Linked DNA regions of Homo sapiens: all the other regions are linked to region 2. Evidence: fine-mapped expression QTL. Tissue or cell type: monocytes after Pam3CSK4. Region 2 holds a variant in brackets; each other region holds the start of a gene. All regions are shown on one strand. Distances are between the middles of the regions.

The links. PIP is the estimated chance that this variant, and not a neighbour inherited with it, causes the effect.
Region 1: it holds the start of DMPK, and the variant in region 2 is fine-mapped to the expression of DMPK in monocytes after Pam3CSK4 (Quach 2016, PIP 0.95).
Region 3: DMWD starts here. The variant in region 2 is fine-mapped to the expression of DMWD in monocytes after Pam3CSK4 (Quach 2016, PIP 0.95).

Annotation. Positions count from the first base shown.
Region 1 is chr19:45,780,084-45,784,083 of GRCh38, forward strand. DMPK (DM1 protein kinase) reads right to left here and starts at 2,407. Exons shown (of 15, transcript NM_004409.5): 1 at 2,110-2,407. The coding sequence starts at 2,269. DMWD (DM1 locus, WD repeat containing) reads right to left here. Exons shown (of 5, transcript NM_004943.2): 5 at 2,864-4,000.
Region 2 is chr19:45,745,125-45,753,072 of GRCh38, forward strand. MEIOSIN (meiosis initiator) reads left to right here. Exons shown (of 15, transcript NM_001310124.2): 4 at 68-197; 5 at 5,551-5,662. Among named protein-coding and RNA genes, the nearest start is that of MEIOSIN, 16 kb to the left of the region's middle. RefSeq lists an enhancer at 2,453-3,245. The variant C/CA (reference allele first, on the strand shown) is at 4,249.
Region 3 is chr19:45,791,221-45,795,220 of GRCh38, forward strand. It overlaps DMWD (DM1 locus, WD repeat containing), which reads right to left and starts at 1,625. Exons shown (of 5, transcript NM_004943.2): 1 at 1,096-1,625. The coding sequence starts at 1,536. RefSeq lists enhancers at 1-55, 76-125 and a silencer at 1,274-1,753.

The DNA.
Region 1 (4,000 bases), 33 kb after region 2:
TTTGCGGGACAGGGCATTGGCCCAGAGGGCTCCAAGGGTGTGCAGGATGGTTAGGGTGGGGTAACGGAGTCTGCAGAAGGACAGACCCTAAAGAACAAGGGGAGAAGGAAATAAGACCCAGTTCTTCCACCTTCCACCCTGACTCCAGGTGACAGTTCAGGTGCAGCCAGGGCCCCACCCCCACGTTCTCATGTAGAATGTCCTGGGTAACGGCCCAGACGTGGGGTTGTATCCAGTACCTCTAGATTCAGATGCAGGTGGTTCTTGAACCACACTTTGGAAAACCCTGGATTTGGGGCTGGGGGAAGGAACAGGACAGGGAGACAAAGGTAGCATGGTCACATATCCCAGACTCAAGTGCTCCGGTCCAGCCCATCTCTCAGTCCTCCAGGAGGAGTGCTTTAGTCCTACCCCTTATTTACAGATGACAATCAGGCCTCTCAGAAGTCAAGGTCCTATGACTAGGAATGTTAAACTGGGCAGCCTGGGTGGGGGACCAGCTGGGGTGGAGGCTTGTGGCTCAGGGACTGTGGGGACAGGGAGGCCTGGACTCCCGGGGGTGGAAGAAGTGGAGGCAGGATGGAGAGAGGGATGGGTATGGGAGGGGAGGGAAGGAGAGGAGACAGTGGGTTCTGGAGGAAAGAGAGGGGTTCCGGGGGGTTCCGGGAGAGTGGGCCAGCAGGGACGAACCAGCCAGGGCTGAGGACGGGGGAGGGAGGAGAGAGCCAAGACATTGAGCCCTTTTAAGGCAGCAGGAACCCTGGCCCCCTCCCCCGCCCCAGGCCTGGCAGGGGAGGGGCCGCGAGATGCAGCTCGGGCCACAAAAGGAGTGCTCCTCCCGGGAGCGCCAGACCCCTACCCCACCCGGTCTCAGTTTACCCTGCCAACCCAACTTCATCCTCTACTAAAGGGAGGCCAGGAGAGTCATTAGGGGCTGTGGGAGGTTGGGAGAAGGTTTTTCCAGAGGCTGAATGGCCTGGCCCTTCTTGGCCTCCACCTTCCCATCTGTGAAATGGGAGGAGGAGGGAAAGGAACCAGGCCTGGGTCAGAAAGAGATGGACACAAGAGGAAGCAGGGGAAGGCGGAGAAACAGGAAACAAGTGTCACACACAGTTTGTTACACACAGGCCAAAAACCAAACACCAGTCACTGAGGGCCAGACATATGAGGGCCAGAGGGGCAGGGTGCTGGGAATGAAAGAAACCAGTGACCAGTGAGCCCGAGTCCTGGGCTTGGGGAGGAGGTGGGCAGACAAGGCAGCTGGCAGAAGCGGAAGCATCCTCCTTCCAGCCCTGGCCCCAGGCCCTGGAAAGCCCTTGCAAGAAGGGGTTTTGTGGGACAGCTGGAAGGTTGGAGGCCCTGGGCCAGGAGAACTAAAGGACGCAGGGACCCGGGGTGGCGGGAATGGTGGCTGACCCACACGGCTCATAGGAACCGAGACTTTGGGGCTGGGGGTGGGGGTGGGTGCAGAACCTACAAAAGAAGGAGACACACCCAGAAGAACCCAAAGTTGTCCCTCCTGGATCGCAGAGGAGGGGGCACTGGTGGCGCCTGTCTGCAAAGCTGGTTCTCCCACAGGGCCCGCGTGAGTCACCGCCCTCCCAGTGCCTGGGCACCTGTTGGGGCAGCTGGAGAGGCTGGCGCCGAACACCTGCCTGTCGGCTGCGCCCCTGGCAGCTGCCCCATGCTGGCCCTCCTGGCTTGCCCCAGGCCACAGGAAACCAGGGGAGAGGGCCATAGAGCCCACTTTTGGGGGGAGGGTCCTAGGAGAGGGAGCTCCCAGCATGACCCTGACCCTGACCCTGAGGCGGGGTGCAGAGAGGCCATGGGAGGCTGTTGGCAGCCTAGCCTGCTGTGACTCCTAAGCCATGGCTCTGAGTCACAGCCACCCTAGCCTCTGCTGACCTTACTCTGCCCCTCCAGAGTGGTGGCATAGGACAGAGAAATGTTGCCCCAGGGCCCAGGTCCACACTCTGAGCCCCAGGATGGGAGGATCTCCCCATGCCCATCCTGCCATCCTGCCCCCCCAACAGCCAGGCCTCTGTGCCCAGACCTGTCTCCTGCCCCACCCCCACCCCATCTGCAGGAGCCCCGAGGGTAGGCACTCACCCCACTGCAAGAAGTCGGCCACGTACTTGTCCTGGGCCAGTTCGGAGGCGCCCAGCTCCTGGTGGACGCCCAGGAGAAGGTCGAGCAGGGGCTCCAGCCCCAGGAAGCCCGGGTCCAACACCAGCTGCTGGAGCCGCCTCAGCCGCACCTCGGCTGACATGTTGGACAGGCAGCACCATGGCCCCTCCCCGGGCCGGGGGCTCGGGGTCCTCCTGTCACAGGGCCTGGCAGCCCCTGTCCAGGCCCTGGAGCCCTGGCTGCATGTCTGCCTGTCCCTGGCTGTCCCCTGGGCCTCTCTGGCCACTTCTCTCTGCGGCCGGCCGAGGCCTCCTCCCCTTCTCCCCACCCCTTGGTCCAGCCCCCCTCCCGCCTCCCAGCCTTAACCCCTCACAAGCCAGCCCCCCAAGCTCCCTCCTTCCAGGGCCCTTCAGAACCCTTCAGTGCTAGAGTAGGGGGAATGCATGGAGAATCTCAGCTGTCACACTGTCACCCCAATAAAAAGGTAGAGCACAGAGGAAGCCACAGGTGTGATGAATTTCAAGAAGAACCTGCCCATTGCTGAAACAGGGCCAATTGAGGCTGAGTGACCCAGTAGCAACCACCCCCTTGCTCCCGACAAGCTCCAGAACTGGGGGCTAGGGGGTGAGGGCTGGGGGTTGGGGCTGGGTGGGAGAAAGGGGTTGAGGCCTGGGAAGGGGACGGGAGGCCAGGGCAGCTTCTTGGGTGACTCAGAGATGGATTCCGACTCGGACAGTTAAATTTAGCCCTCAGGCTCTCTGCTTTATACCAGCTTTTTTTTTTTTTTTTTTTTTTTTTCCCAGGAGGTGGGGAAGGGGTGGTGAGGACAGGACCAGGAGGGGGCACCCTCAGAGCCTGAACAGGGGTGACCTGCTGCCCAAAGGCTGGGGGAGGAAAGTGGTGGAGCCAAGCCCTCCCTGGGCAAACGAGACCCCAAAATAGCTCCTTGGCCCCTGGCCGGGGAGCCACATTCCTGCCCAGGCTGGGATTAGAAACAGAAACATTTCGGGGGGTGGAGGGTGGCGCGGGAAGACACACTCCCTGCGGCTCCGAGAGCCAAGAGGAATCTGAGCTCTTCTTTCCAGGGTGGACGGTTCTCCAGAGTGGAAGTCGGGGCCTCCAACCGGCCTGGGGTGCCTGGGCCTTGAGAGGGCCAGGCCTGAGAAACTAGGAGGCAAGGACCGAGGAGTCCCAGCTGGGCAGGGCCTGGGAAACGTGGTCCTGGGCAGTTCTGATAATTTAAAAAACACCGAGGACTTTGATGAGGGGCCCTGGCTGCGGGCAGGATGCTCTTCTCCCCAAGAGGGTCCTGCTCCAGCCGCTGGTGTGGGTCACCAGTTGTGTGACTCGCAGGTCCGTTCCCTCCCTGGGCTCCGGCTTTTCCTGCTATGAAAAGGGGTGGGAGGCGCTGGGCTGGGAGCAGGCCTGCACTCCTCCTCTGGGGAAAGCGGACTGCCTAGAACCACAGAGTACACACACAGGTCCTCTACATCATCTCCTCCGAAGGGGACAGACCCGCTGAGAAAACAGGGAACTTTAGTATAAATAAGAGGTCCTGCGGGACAGGGAGGAACCTGAGGGGCTTCCATAATTTAACACTCTTCAAAAGCACAGACAATAGCAAGGGCAGCTGGGGTGGGGGCCGGGCGAGGGCTGGACCACCCCCGGCCCTGCCCACTCAACTGAGGGGCACACTGCAGACCTGGGGCTCTTGTGGCAGGGGCGGGGAGTCTCTCCCCAGGAGTGACCAGTCACATGCTGGGGACAGGGATGAGGGTAACACTGATGTTTCAGAGGAAGAGGTCATTGTACTTGGCAGTGGGTGGGGGACAAGGCTGAGGCCACAAGGGCTATTACATCGCCCGTGTCCGGG
Region 2 (7,948 bases):
GTTTGCGGGTTGGATGTGGAATTCGTTTTGGATGTCCTAACCAAAACCAGCTCCTGTCCCCAAACAGGAATCAGAGGAACCAAAACAAGCTCCTGTCCCCAAACAAGAAGCAGAGGAAAAACCACACTAGCAAGCTGCAAGAGTTGGCACTGCTGCTGCCCATAGCCCTGAAGACGGGGACCAAGAAGCTCACAAAGGTACAGGGACTAGAGGAGAGGGGCCAGATTTGGGACGCAGGTCTTTAAATAGCAGCAAATGGGTCACCCTCTCCTGGGAAACCTGGACAGATCCTTTCAGTGGCAGCATTCAAATGGGAATGGTGCTACTCTGAACGGGAATTTCCGGGAGTCTGTGATCCCATAACTAGGTGCCTGGAGGATCCTTTTTTGCAAAGGAGAGAGGAGAAACCGGGCTGGGGAAATAGAGATAGCACAAAGATCATTGTTCCAGGAATCAAATAGCCATGGGTTTGAGCCCTCTAGCTTCACAGCTACAGAACTCTGGGCAGTTTCTCAGGCTACCCAGACTTTCTTTTTTTCTTTGTTCTTTTTTGTTTTTGAGAGTCCTGAGTAGCTGGGACTACAGGCACAGGCCACCACACCCGGCTAATAGTTTTTTTGTATTTTTAGTAGAGACAGGGTTTCACCATATTGGTCAGGCCGGTCTCAAATTCCTGACCTCAGGCGATCCATCCGCCTTGGCCTCCGAAAGTGCTGGGATTACAGGCGTTAGCCACTGTGGCCAGCCAAATTTATTCTCTTATGGTTCTGGAGTTCAGAAGTCCAATATCAGTCTCAGTGGCTTTTTCACTTGTTTGGTTGTTTTGGGGTTTTTAGGTTTTGTTTTGTTTTGTTTTGTTTTTGAGACAGGATCTCACTGTCTCACCCAGGCTACAGTGTAGTGGCTCGACCTCAGCTCACTGCAGCCTCTGCTTCCCAGGCTCAAGCAATCCTCCCACCTCAGCCTCCCGAGTAGCTGAGACTACAGGCTCATGCCACACCTGGCTAATTTTTTGTAGTTTTGGTAGAGACGAGGTTTTACCATGTTGCCCAGGCTAGTCTCAAACTCCTGACCTCAAGTGATCCTCCCACCTTGGCCTCCCAAAGTTCGGGGATTACAGGCATAAGCCACTGCACCCAGCCAGTCTCACTGGTTTAAAGTCAAGTTGTCAGCAGGGTTGGTTCCTCTTAGAAGCTCTAGAGAGTTTGTTTCCTTTCTTTTTGCCAACTTCTGGGGGCTGCCTGCATTCCTTGACCCATCATGGTCCCTCAAAGCCAGCATGGAAGCATCTTCAAATGTCTTTCCTGTCCTACCGCTTCTGTTGTCACATTGCCTTCCCTGCCTTTGACATTCCTACCTCTGTAAGATTATATGTGATTACACTGGGCCCACCCAGATAAACAGGAATAATCAGGCCATCTCAAGATCCTTAACACAGCGGGCTCAGTAGTTTGGGAGGCCGAGGTGGGTGGATCACCTGAGGTCAGGAGTTTGAGACCAGCCTGGCCAACATGGTGAAACCCCGTCTCTACTAAAAATACAACCAATTAGCCAGGAGTGGTGGCGCGTGCCTATAATCCCAGCTACTCAGGAGGCTGAGGCGGGAGATTTGCTTGAACCTGGGAGGCAGAGGTTGCAGTGATCCGAGATCGCGCCATTGCACCCCAGCCTAGGCAACAGAGCAAGACTCTGTCTCAAAAGAAAAAAAAAAAAAAAGATCCTTAACTCAATCATATCTGCAAAGTCCTTTCTTTCTGCCATACAAGGCAACATATTCATAGGTTCTGGGGACTAGGACATGGACATCTTTGGAACTTTGGGGGGATGCATTATACAGTCCACGATGGTGCTAAAAATATTTGAGGAATGTGAGTTTTTGGCATGCATAGGTGCTGGAATAGCCCTTGGGGAGCCAGAGATGACTATGACACAGTCCCTCCCCTCGAGGAATGGCAGTCTTGTCAGGGGACTGGCAACGTTTCATAAATGACCGGATGGCCACATCTCTTGGAATTCTCCCCAGGCCTCAGCCTACTTATTTACCATGTGTCCTCTGCTGTCTTCAGAACCCCTCTTCTCCCACCTCTTCATCCTTCCCTCAGCTGCATCATGGGGTCCTGCTCCACAGACAACCCGCATCCCGGGGCCGTGGGACATGCTCAGTCCAGTGCTCCGCGCCATAGCAGGAGCTGTGAGAATTGCCTCTCCTGTGTTAGAGACTTGGGGTGCAGCTTTGATTCAGAGTGTCCTTCCTCACCACTCTGGCTGGTGAATTGCCCCCTGCCCCGTCTGATCATGTAGGTTCTCCCTCTGACCATGAACACCCCCAGCGTATCACTGCAATTACTTCCTTGTTTCCGACCTCCTTCAGGTGGAGTTCTGCCAGAGCCATAAAGGAGACATCTCTGTCCGCCTTGCCCACAGGGCCTAGCAAGAGCAGAGAGCAGACAGCAGACAGCAGTAACAACCGTTCCCAACTTACTGAGCGTTCCAGGTGTCAGACCTTGAGTGCTAAGTGTCTTAGATACATTTTTCTCATTTAACTCTCCCACAAGGCTTGTGAGAGATGTATGGCTATGCTCATTCTTTGGTCTGAGGAAACTGAAGTGCAGAGAATGGTCACATCGCCCACAGGCACAGAGTTGAGATAGAAAGAGAGACAGAGAGAAAGAGAGAGGGAGGGATTCAGATGTGGCCAGGCACAGTGGCTCACACCTGTAATACCAGCACTTTGGGAGGCTGAAGCAGGCAGATTGCTTGAGATTAGGAGTTCGAGACCAGCCTGGGCAATGTGACGAAAGTCCATCTCTACAAAAAATACAAAAATTAGCCAGCCATGGTCCCCGCTACCCAGGAGGCTGAAGCAGGAGGATAGCTTGAGCCTGGGAAGTGGAGGTTGCAATGAGTCGAGATCATACCACTGCACTCCAGCCTGAGCAACAGAGTAAGACCCTGTCTTTTTTTTTTTTTTGAGACGGAGTCCCGCTCTGTACCCCAGGCTGGAGTGCAGTGGCACCATCTCGGCTCACTGCAAGCTCTGCCTCCTGGGTTCACGCCATTCTCCTGCCTCAGCCTCCTGAGTGGCTGGGACTACAGGTGCCCGCCACCACGCCCGGCCAATTAGTTTTTGTATTTTTAGTAAAGACAGGGTTTCACCGTGTTAGCCAGGATGACCTCGATCTCCTGACTTCGTGATCCACCCGCCTCGGGCTCTGAAAGTGCTGGGATTACAGGCGTGAGCCACCGCGCCTGGCCATGAGACCCCATCTTAAAAGAAATAGAGTCAGATGTATCTCACTCCAAAGGCTCTTGCCTTCAACCATTCTGTCACTCAAGGTTCAATAGATGTTTGTTGAATGACTGAATGAGCTCCCTTTGTTGGGACAGTTACAGGACCTGTTGATCTTACCTTCAGAAGGTCTTTGAGAGTCCAGACTCTGGTGTAGCCCCCAAGCTAACCTTCCTGAAGTTTCAATTACTGAGGCATCTGTCTTGAAATCTGGGATGATGCCCAATTGCTTTCTACATACAACCTTTATACTAGTAATAATAAGTAACATTTATATATTACTTCATGGTTTATAAGGACTTTTTCTTAGCGAGTGCCAACCATATGCTCCAAGCCTGGTATTAGAGATAATAAGCTTAAAAAGACTGAGGCTGGCTGGGTGCAGTGGCTCACACATGTAATCCCAGCACTTTGGGAGGCCGAGGTGGGTGGATCACTTGAGGTCGGTAGTTCGAGACCAACCTGGCCAACATGGTGAAACCTTGTCTCTACTAAAAATACAAAAATTAGCCAAGCGTGGTGGCACATTCCTGTAGCCCCTGCTACTCAGGAGGTTGAGGTGGGAGAATCGCTTGAACCTGGGAGTCAGAGGCTGCAGTGAGCTGAGATCGTACCACTGCACTTCAGACTGGGCAACAGACCGAGACTCCCTCTCAAAAAAAAAAAAAAGACTGAGGCCAGGTGTGGTGGCTCATGCCTGTAATCCCAGCACTTTGGGAGGCCAAGGCGGGTGGATCACTTGAGCCCAGGAGTTTGAGACCAGCCTGAACAACATGGCGAAACCTCATCTCGATAAAAAATACAAAAAATTAGCTGGGCATGGTGGCATGCGCCTGTAGTCCCAGCTACTTGTGGGGCTGAGACAGGAGGATTGCTCGAGCCTAGGAGGTGGAGGTTGAAGTGAGCTGAGATGGTACCACTAAACTCCAGCCTGGCCAACAGAGCAAGAGACCCTGTCT[C/CA]AAAAAAAAAAAAAAAAAAAAGGCCGAGCGCAGTGGCTCACGCCTGTAATCCCAGCATTTTGGGAGGCTGAGGTGGGCGGATCATGAAGTCAGGAGATTGAGACCATTCTGGCTAACATGGTGAAACCCCGTCTCTACTAAAAAATACAAAAAAATTAGCGAGGCGTGGTGGAGGGCGCCTGTAGTCCCAGCTACTCGCTGAGGCAGGAGAATGGCATGAACCCGGGAGGCGGAGCTTGCAGTGAGCCAAGATTGCGCCACTGCACTCCATCCTGGGCGACAGAACAAGATTCTGTCTCAAAAAAAAAAAAAAAAAAAAGCGCAAAAAAAAAAAACAAAAAAAGACTATTGGCCGGGCGTGGTGGCTCACACCTGGAATCCCAGAACTTTGGGAGACCAAGGCGGGCAGATCACAAGGTCAGGAGTTCGTGACCAGCCTAGCCAGCATGGTGAAACCCCGTCTCTACTAAAAATACAAAACATTAGCTGGGCCTGGTGGCACGCACCTCTAGTCCCAGCTACTCAGGAGGCTGAGGCAGGAGAATTGCTTGAACCTGGCAGGCAGAAGTTGCAGTGAGCTGAGATCGTGCCATTGCACTCCAGCCTGGGCAACATAGCAAGACTCTGTCTCAAAAAAAAAAAAAAAGAAAAAGAAAAAGAAAGAAAGACAGGGTTGAGCACAACAGCCAGGGCTCAAGACAACGTGGGGCTGCTGGGGACCAGAGACACAGAGGCTCCAGGAAGGACCCCATTCCCCACCCACCCCAACAATTCTTCAGTCGGCAGAGACCTTCTTGTTCTGCTATCTAGCCCTCACTGCAGACCAGTGAGACAGGGGCTACAGCTACAGGCTGGAGTGCAGTGGCATGATCTCAGCTCACTGCAACCTTTGCTTCAGGCTGTGTCTCTGGTCCCCAGCAGCCCCACATTGTCTTGAGCCCTGGCTGTTGTGCTCAACCCTGTCTTTCTTTCTTTCTTTTTCTTTTTCTTTTTTTTTTTTTTTTTGAGACAGAGTCTCGCTATGTTGCCCAGGCTGGAGTGCAACGGCGTGATCTTGGCTCACTGCAACCTCCGCCTCACGGGTTCAAGCAATTCTCCTGCCTCAGCCTCTCAAGTAGCTGGCATTACAGGCATGTGCCACCACACCCAGCTAATTTTTTGTATTTTTAGTAGAGACGGGGTTTCACCATGCTGGCCAGGCTGGTCTCGAACTCCTGACCTCATGATCCGCCCACCTCGGCTTCTCAAAGTGCTGTGATTACAGGCGTGAGCCTGGCCAACCCTGTCTTTCTTTTGAGGCAGAAGGAGATTCTGGTGCATGTCCTGCAGTACATTCAGTACCTCCAGAGAAACATCGATGCCGCCAAGGCCTTGTTCAAATGCCACATCACCACTGGGGAAGGTGGACTTGCGGGTAAGTAGTTCAGCCAGTGTTTCCTGGTGCCTGTGATGTTCCAAGTGTTGTTCCAGCCATCAGGGATACTGAGTGACCCTTCTGTCAAGGCCTGGTATAGGGGACAAAGAGAGATATGCAAGATGCCTCAGAGAAGAGGGGCCTTGGAGCTGGGCCTTCAGGACTGTAGGAGATGCAGGGAAGCCCAGCCAGGCAGAAGAAACAGGCCGGGCACAGTGGCTGATGCCTGTACTCCCGGCACTTTGGGAGGCCGAGGCGGGCGGATCGCTTGAGGTCAGGAGTTCGAGACCAGCCTGGCCAACATGGCAAAACCCCGTCTCTACTAAAAATACAAAAATTAGCTGGTGTGGTGGCTGGCGCCTGTAATCCCAGCTACTTGGGAGGTTGAGGCAGGAGAATCACTTGAACCTGGGAGGCGGAGGTTGCTGTGAGCCGAGATCACGCCACTGCACCCTAGCCTGGGCAACAGAGCAAGACTGTGTCTCAAATAATAATAATAATAATAATAATAATAATAATAATAATATATACATAAAATAAAATAAATCTGATCATGACCTTCCCCTGGCATAAAATCCCTCAGTAATTTTCATCTTCTTCACTTCCCTCCATAGCCAGGTGCTGGAAACCATTTGGGATCTCATCCCTGCCTTCCTAGTCCCTGCCAAACCTCCCCAGCCTCATCTCCTACCATTCTGCCAGCGTATTTTATTTATTTATTTGTGCTTTTTGTTTTGTTTTGTTTTTTGTTTTTTGTGTGTTTTTTGAGACGGAGTATCACTCTGTCACCCAGGCTGGAGTGCAGTGGCGTGATCTCTGCTCACTGCGACCTCTGCCTCCCGGGCCTCTGCCAGTATATTTTACACTACAGTAACAGCGACAGCACCCAGCACATCTAGCCTTAGGGGACTGCTATGTTCCAGGTGCTGTGGTATGTTTCTTTCTTTCTTTTTTTTTTTTTGAGGCAGAGTTTAGCTCTTGTTGCGCAGGCTGGAGTGCAGTGGCGTGATCTTGGCTCACCGCAACCTCTGCCTTCCAAGTTCAAGTGATTCTCCTGCCTCAGCCTCCCGAGTAGGTAGGATTACAGGCACTCACCACCACACCCAGCTAATTTTTTTGTATTTTTAGTAGAGACGGTGTTTCACCATATTGGCCAGGCTGGTCTCAAACTCCTGACCTCAGGTGATCCACCCACCTTGGCCTCCCAAAGTGCTGGGATTACAGCTGTGAGCCCCTGCTCCTAGCCGTTTTTTTTTTTTTTTTTTTTTGAGACAAGGTCTCACTCTGTCACCCAGGCTGGAATGCAGTGGCATGATCATGGCTCACTGTAACCTCAAAATCCCAGGACTCAAAACTCCAGGGGTCAAGCAATCCTCCTGCCGCAGACTTCTAAGCAGCTTGTACTACAGGCACGTGCCACCAATATCCAGATAATTTTCTTTTTTTTGAGATGGAGTTTCTCTCTGTCGCCCAGACTAGAGTGCAGTGGCGTGATCTCAGCTCACTGCAAGCTCTGCCTCCCAGGTTCAAGCCATTCTCCTGCCTCAGCCTCCCAAGTAGCTGGGACTACAGGCGCCCGCCACCACACCCAGCTAATTTTTATATTTTTAGTAGAGACAGGATTTTGCCGTGGTCGCCAAGCTGGTATCACCTCAAGTGATCCACCCATCTCAGCCTCCTAAAGTGCTGGGATGACAGATGTGAGCCATCGTGCCTGGCTCTGGCTAATATTTTTGTTTGTTTTTTTGTAGAGACAGAGTCTCACTGTGTTGCCCAAGCTGGTCTTAAACCCCTGGGCTTAAGCAATTCTCCCGCCTTGGCCTCCCAAAGTGCTGGGATTATAGGAGTGGGCCACCAAGCCTGACTTGTTTCTATGTATTAACTCACATTTAATCGTCAGGACAAATACCGAAGGGAAAAGCTAATGTGGTCCTGTTTTGCAGGTGATGGAACTGAAGCCCAGAGAGGTTAAGGTCACAGAGATGAGCCTGAGTCAGGGCCTGGCTCAGAGCCCACACACATCATCTCCATGCCACGCAGACCTCCAATCACACCCAATGACTTGCCTGTCCCCAGACACCCCGCGCGTGTCTTCTCATGCCTGCAAGCTCTTACTCAGATAGTTTCTTCTTCTTTTTTTTTTTTTTTTTTTCTGAGGCGGAGTCTCGCTCTTTTCGCCCAGGCTGGAGTGAAGTGGCGAAATTTCGGATCACTGCAAGCTCCACCCCCTGGGTTCAAGCGATTCTCCTGCCTCAGCCTCCCAAGTAACTGGGATTACAGGCACCC
Region 3 (4,000 bases), 44 kb after region 2:
TTGCGAAGGACGGGGCAACCACAGACGGGAAGGGGACCCAAATCACAGACAAGAGTAGCAAAAAAGATGGTAAGGATCCCCCTTGACCACAGTGCCTCCCCAAAGTTGGGTCACCTCTAATTCAGAGACACCCTTGTCCACATAATCAGGGTTCTGGGTCCACACAGTTCCTAAGCTCCGATTCCTTTTAGCCTCACCACTCCATCCTATAACCTCAGCAACTCCCTTGGGACCTAGTACCACACTATTCCAAGACCCCCAAACCTTGAGGTCACCCAAATTTCCAGGACTCTAAAGCCTAACATCCTAGCATTCTCTTCACTTTGTAGTCCCTAAACCGCCACAGTTCTGGGACCCGTCAAACCTCACGGTCTCCCACATTTTAGGCCCATTTATTACCTAGGGGCTCCGAAGGATCCCCATCATTTCTGGGATCACCATAAACGGCCAGGGTTCTCACCACATCGCTTTAGAGATGTCCTGAATCACACCTGCAGATTCCCCTGCCAGGGCCTCTCATTCCCTTGAGAGCTCCCATCAGCTTCCGGACGCTCATCTCCTCCAGGACCCTCATGACTTCCAGACCCCAATTTTCTCTAGAATCCCATTCAGCTTCTGGATCCCCTATCACCTTCAAGGCCCCCATCACTTCTAGACTTCTCCTCATTCCTGGGCTCAATCTCAAGACCCCTCTCCCACACCTCCAGGCTGCAATACTGGGTTCTCCATCACCTCTGGGCTTGCATCACCTCATGATTCCCCATTACCTGCAGAATGCCTGCCACCCCAGAACCCGGGGGATCCCACCTCATCTCAGATACCCCATCATGTCCAATAGTCACCATCCCAGAACTCCTACGCATAACGGGGGTAAAGGGGATTTCCCCCATCACCTCCAAGATGCCTGCCCAGCACCCCGCGGGCCTCTCATCACATTTCAGAATCCTGTACTCCCTCCAATGCTGTCGCCCTACAACGTCCATCACATTTAGAATGCCTATCTCAGGGCCCCATATCAATTCGGGGACCCTCCTATCAGTTCTCTGGAACCTCCATCCTTTCAGCACCCAGGGCCCCACGATGCAGGCCGCTCACCCGTTGGCTCCCACGACGACAGCAGCCTGGGTAGAAATAGAGCTCACGGCCCAAGTTGAAGCAGACGCGGTCTCCCCCCGAGCCCAGCCCCGCGGGCGTGGCGGGCGGCTCCCCGGCCCCGGCGCTGTCCGGCTCCCCGAGGCGCACGAGGCTGAGGCGCACGGCGGGCAGGGCGGGCCCGGGTCCGGGGCCTGCGGGCGGCGGGGACGACGCGGGGCCTGCAGCGCCGGGACCGGAGGCGGAGGCAGGGCCGGGCGGGGGCTGCGGTGGCTGAGGCGGCACCGGAGTCTGGGCGGAAGCCGGACCCGACCTGCGAGCGGCGCCGTCGCCCGGGAGTAGCTTGTAGAAACCCTCGCGCGTGCGGAATTGCGACTTAATCTCCGCGCAGTCCCCCATGGCGGCGCCGGGGCCCGAGCCGCCCTCCGCGCCGCCCGCCGCCATCTTGGGCGCCCCCCGGGCCCCGCCACTGCCGGACTGCCGCCCGCAGCCGGGCCCCCTCCCGGAAGCCGCTGGCCCGCGCCGGAAAAGGTGGGGTCGTCGCCCGGGCAACGCCTCTTCGATTGGCACCCAGATCCGGAGGCGGGACGAATCCCCGCGGTCGCTCGGGTAACGGTGCTGGGACTGTGGGCGGGGCGAGAAGGTGGGCGCGGCCTTTGAGCCTGTGACCGACTTGTGGTTGGCTGCGGGGGCGGAGCCCGCAATGGAAAGAGGCGTGGCCAGTTAGAAAGCTCAAGTCCTTAGCAACCGCGCCCTGGGAACGTTTGCCTAGCAACGGAGGGATTTTTTTTTTTTTTTCCCCCACGACAAAGAAGCCCTCATCCATAGTCCAGCCTTCCCATGAAGTCACAGCCAACCCCAAGTGACCCTGGTCTCTCCTTAGACGCCCAATATACACTCCCCTGACCTCCAGTGTTTCCCACTGACATATTCAAATCCCTGAATGACCACAGCATCTGCTACCATTCTTCCCCACCCTTGGTGACCCACCAAATCCCTGTGTCCCCACACAACTCAGAGGACTTCCTCTGACCCACTATTGATTAATGCTAACTCCAAACATCCTTCATATTTTCCACCAACCTCCAATGTATATTTCCATGATTTTCTTATTTTCAACAACCTCACTTGTCCTCCAAAACCTACCTCTGATTCCCAAATTGTATTGATCCCCACGGTGCCCCAGTGTCCCAGTGATCCACTCGTAACCCAAAGTCTCCCCCTGATCCCAACAGCTCCTACTCATAGCCAGTGCTCCCCATGTCTGCTGAAGCCACCCAGCCCCATCATAGATCTTTCTAGTCTCATGTAGTCAATGGCCTCTACGATTTCTCCCTAGAGTGTCCCAAGGGCATCTCACACTTAAAAAAAAAAATCCTACAATGGTTCGGGCATGGTGGCTCATGCCTGGAATCCGAGAATCCCAGCACTTTGGGAGGCTGAGGTGGGAGGATCGTTTGAGCCCAGGAGATCAAGACTGCTATGAATTCACATCACTGCACTAAAGCCTGGGGGACAGAGTCAGACTCAGTCTCTCTAAAAAAAAAAAAAAAAGAAAGAAAAAAGAATCCTACAATGAAATTGACGTCTTACACCAAATCCTCCACCTCTCTTGCATCCCCACCTTAGGGCTAGCTCTGCCGTCCACTCAGTCAACCAGGCCACAGACCTGGGTGTCTTCCTAGATGTGTACCATTTATCTTCACTCTGCCCCCGCTTACAGCCTCCAAGTCTTTTGCATTCGACCACGTGGAATTCCTCTTTCTCAGTTCCTTGTTCTCCCTGATCCAAGCTTCTCCTCTACCCAAGCCCTTCCCCCACCCCCACATCAACCGTGTCTCTTGGTCTCCCAGATTTCTGTCTCACCCCCACTTCCACCTTTCACTTGGCATGTAGAGAGGTTTTATTTTGTTTTTGTTTTTGTTTTTTTTGAGACAGTCTCACCCTGTCACCCAGGCTGGAGTGCAATGGCTCCATCTCGGCTCAGAGACGGGGTTTCACCATGTTGGCCAGTCTGGTCTCGAACTCCTGACCTCAGGTGATCCACCCACCTCGGCCTCCCAAAGTGCTGGGAGTACAGGCATGAGCCACTGCACCCGGCTTTTTTTTTTTTTTTTTTTTTTTTTGAGACAGAGTCTCGCTCTTGTCACGTGGGCTGGAGTGCAATGGGACGATTTTGGCTCACTGCAACCTCTGCCTCCTGGGTTCAAGTGATTCTCCTGCCTTAGCCTCCTGAGTGGCTGGGATTACAGGCACCTGCCACCACACCCAGCTACTTTTTTGTAGTTTTAGTAGAGACGGGGTTTCACCATGTTGGGCATGCTGGTCTCAAACTCCTGACCTCAGGTGATCCGCCAACCTTGGCCTCCCTAAGTGCTGGGATTACATGTGTGACCCACTGCACTAGGCCTAGAGAGGTCTTTCTAAAGCATGAATATGATCAGGGCCCTCCCCTGCTCAAAACCCATCTGTAGCTCCCTAGTGCTCTCAGGGGAAAGTTAAGCCCCAAGTGATCTGGCCCCTGCCAACCTCTTTTCAATCTCATATCTCACCACTAACTCCTCACACTATCCACCACCTAAAATGAGGCTTGAAAAACTACCCCAACATATCACACTCTCTCTTGTCCTTGGGTCTTTGCACATTCTGTTCCCTATTCTTGGAATGCCTTTCCCCATTCTTTTCTTGACCCTTTAAGAGTTGGCTCGGGAGCTCTGTCAGTCCTCTGGGCTTCCCCATTTGGGCTGTCACTGTCTGGAAATGAGTCTCTCTCCCTATAGTGTTGTGAGGTCCAGGAAGGCAGGACTGCAGCTGTCTGTGTCCCCAGCACAGGGGTGGGCTGACAGGAGGTATTTCAATAATGGTTTGATGGCTAGGTAAATGAATAAATAAAACAGGTGGGGCTGGT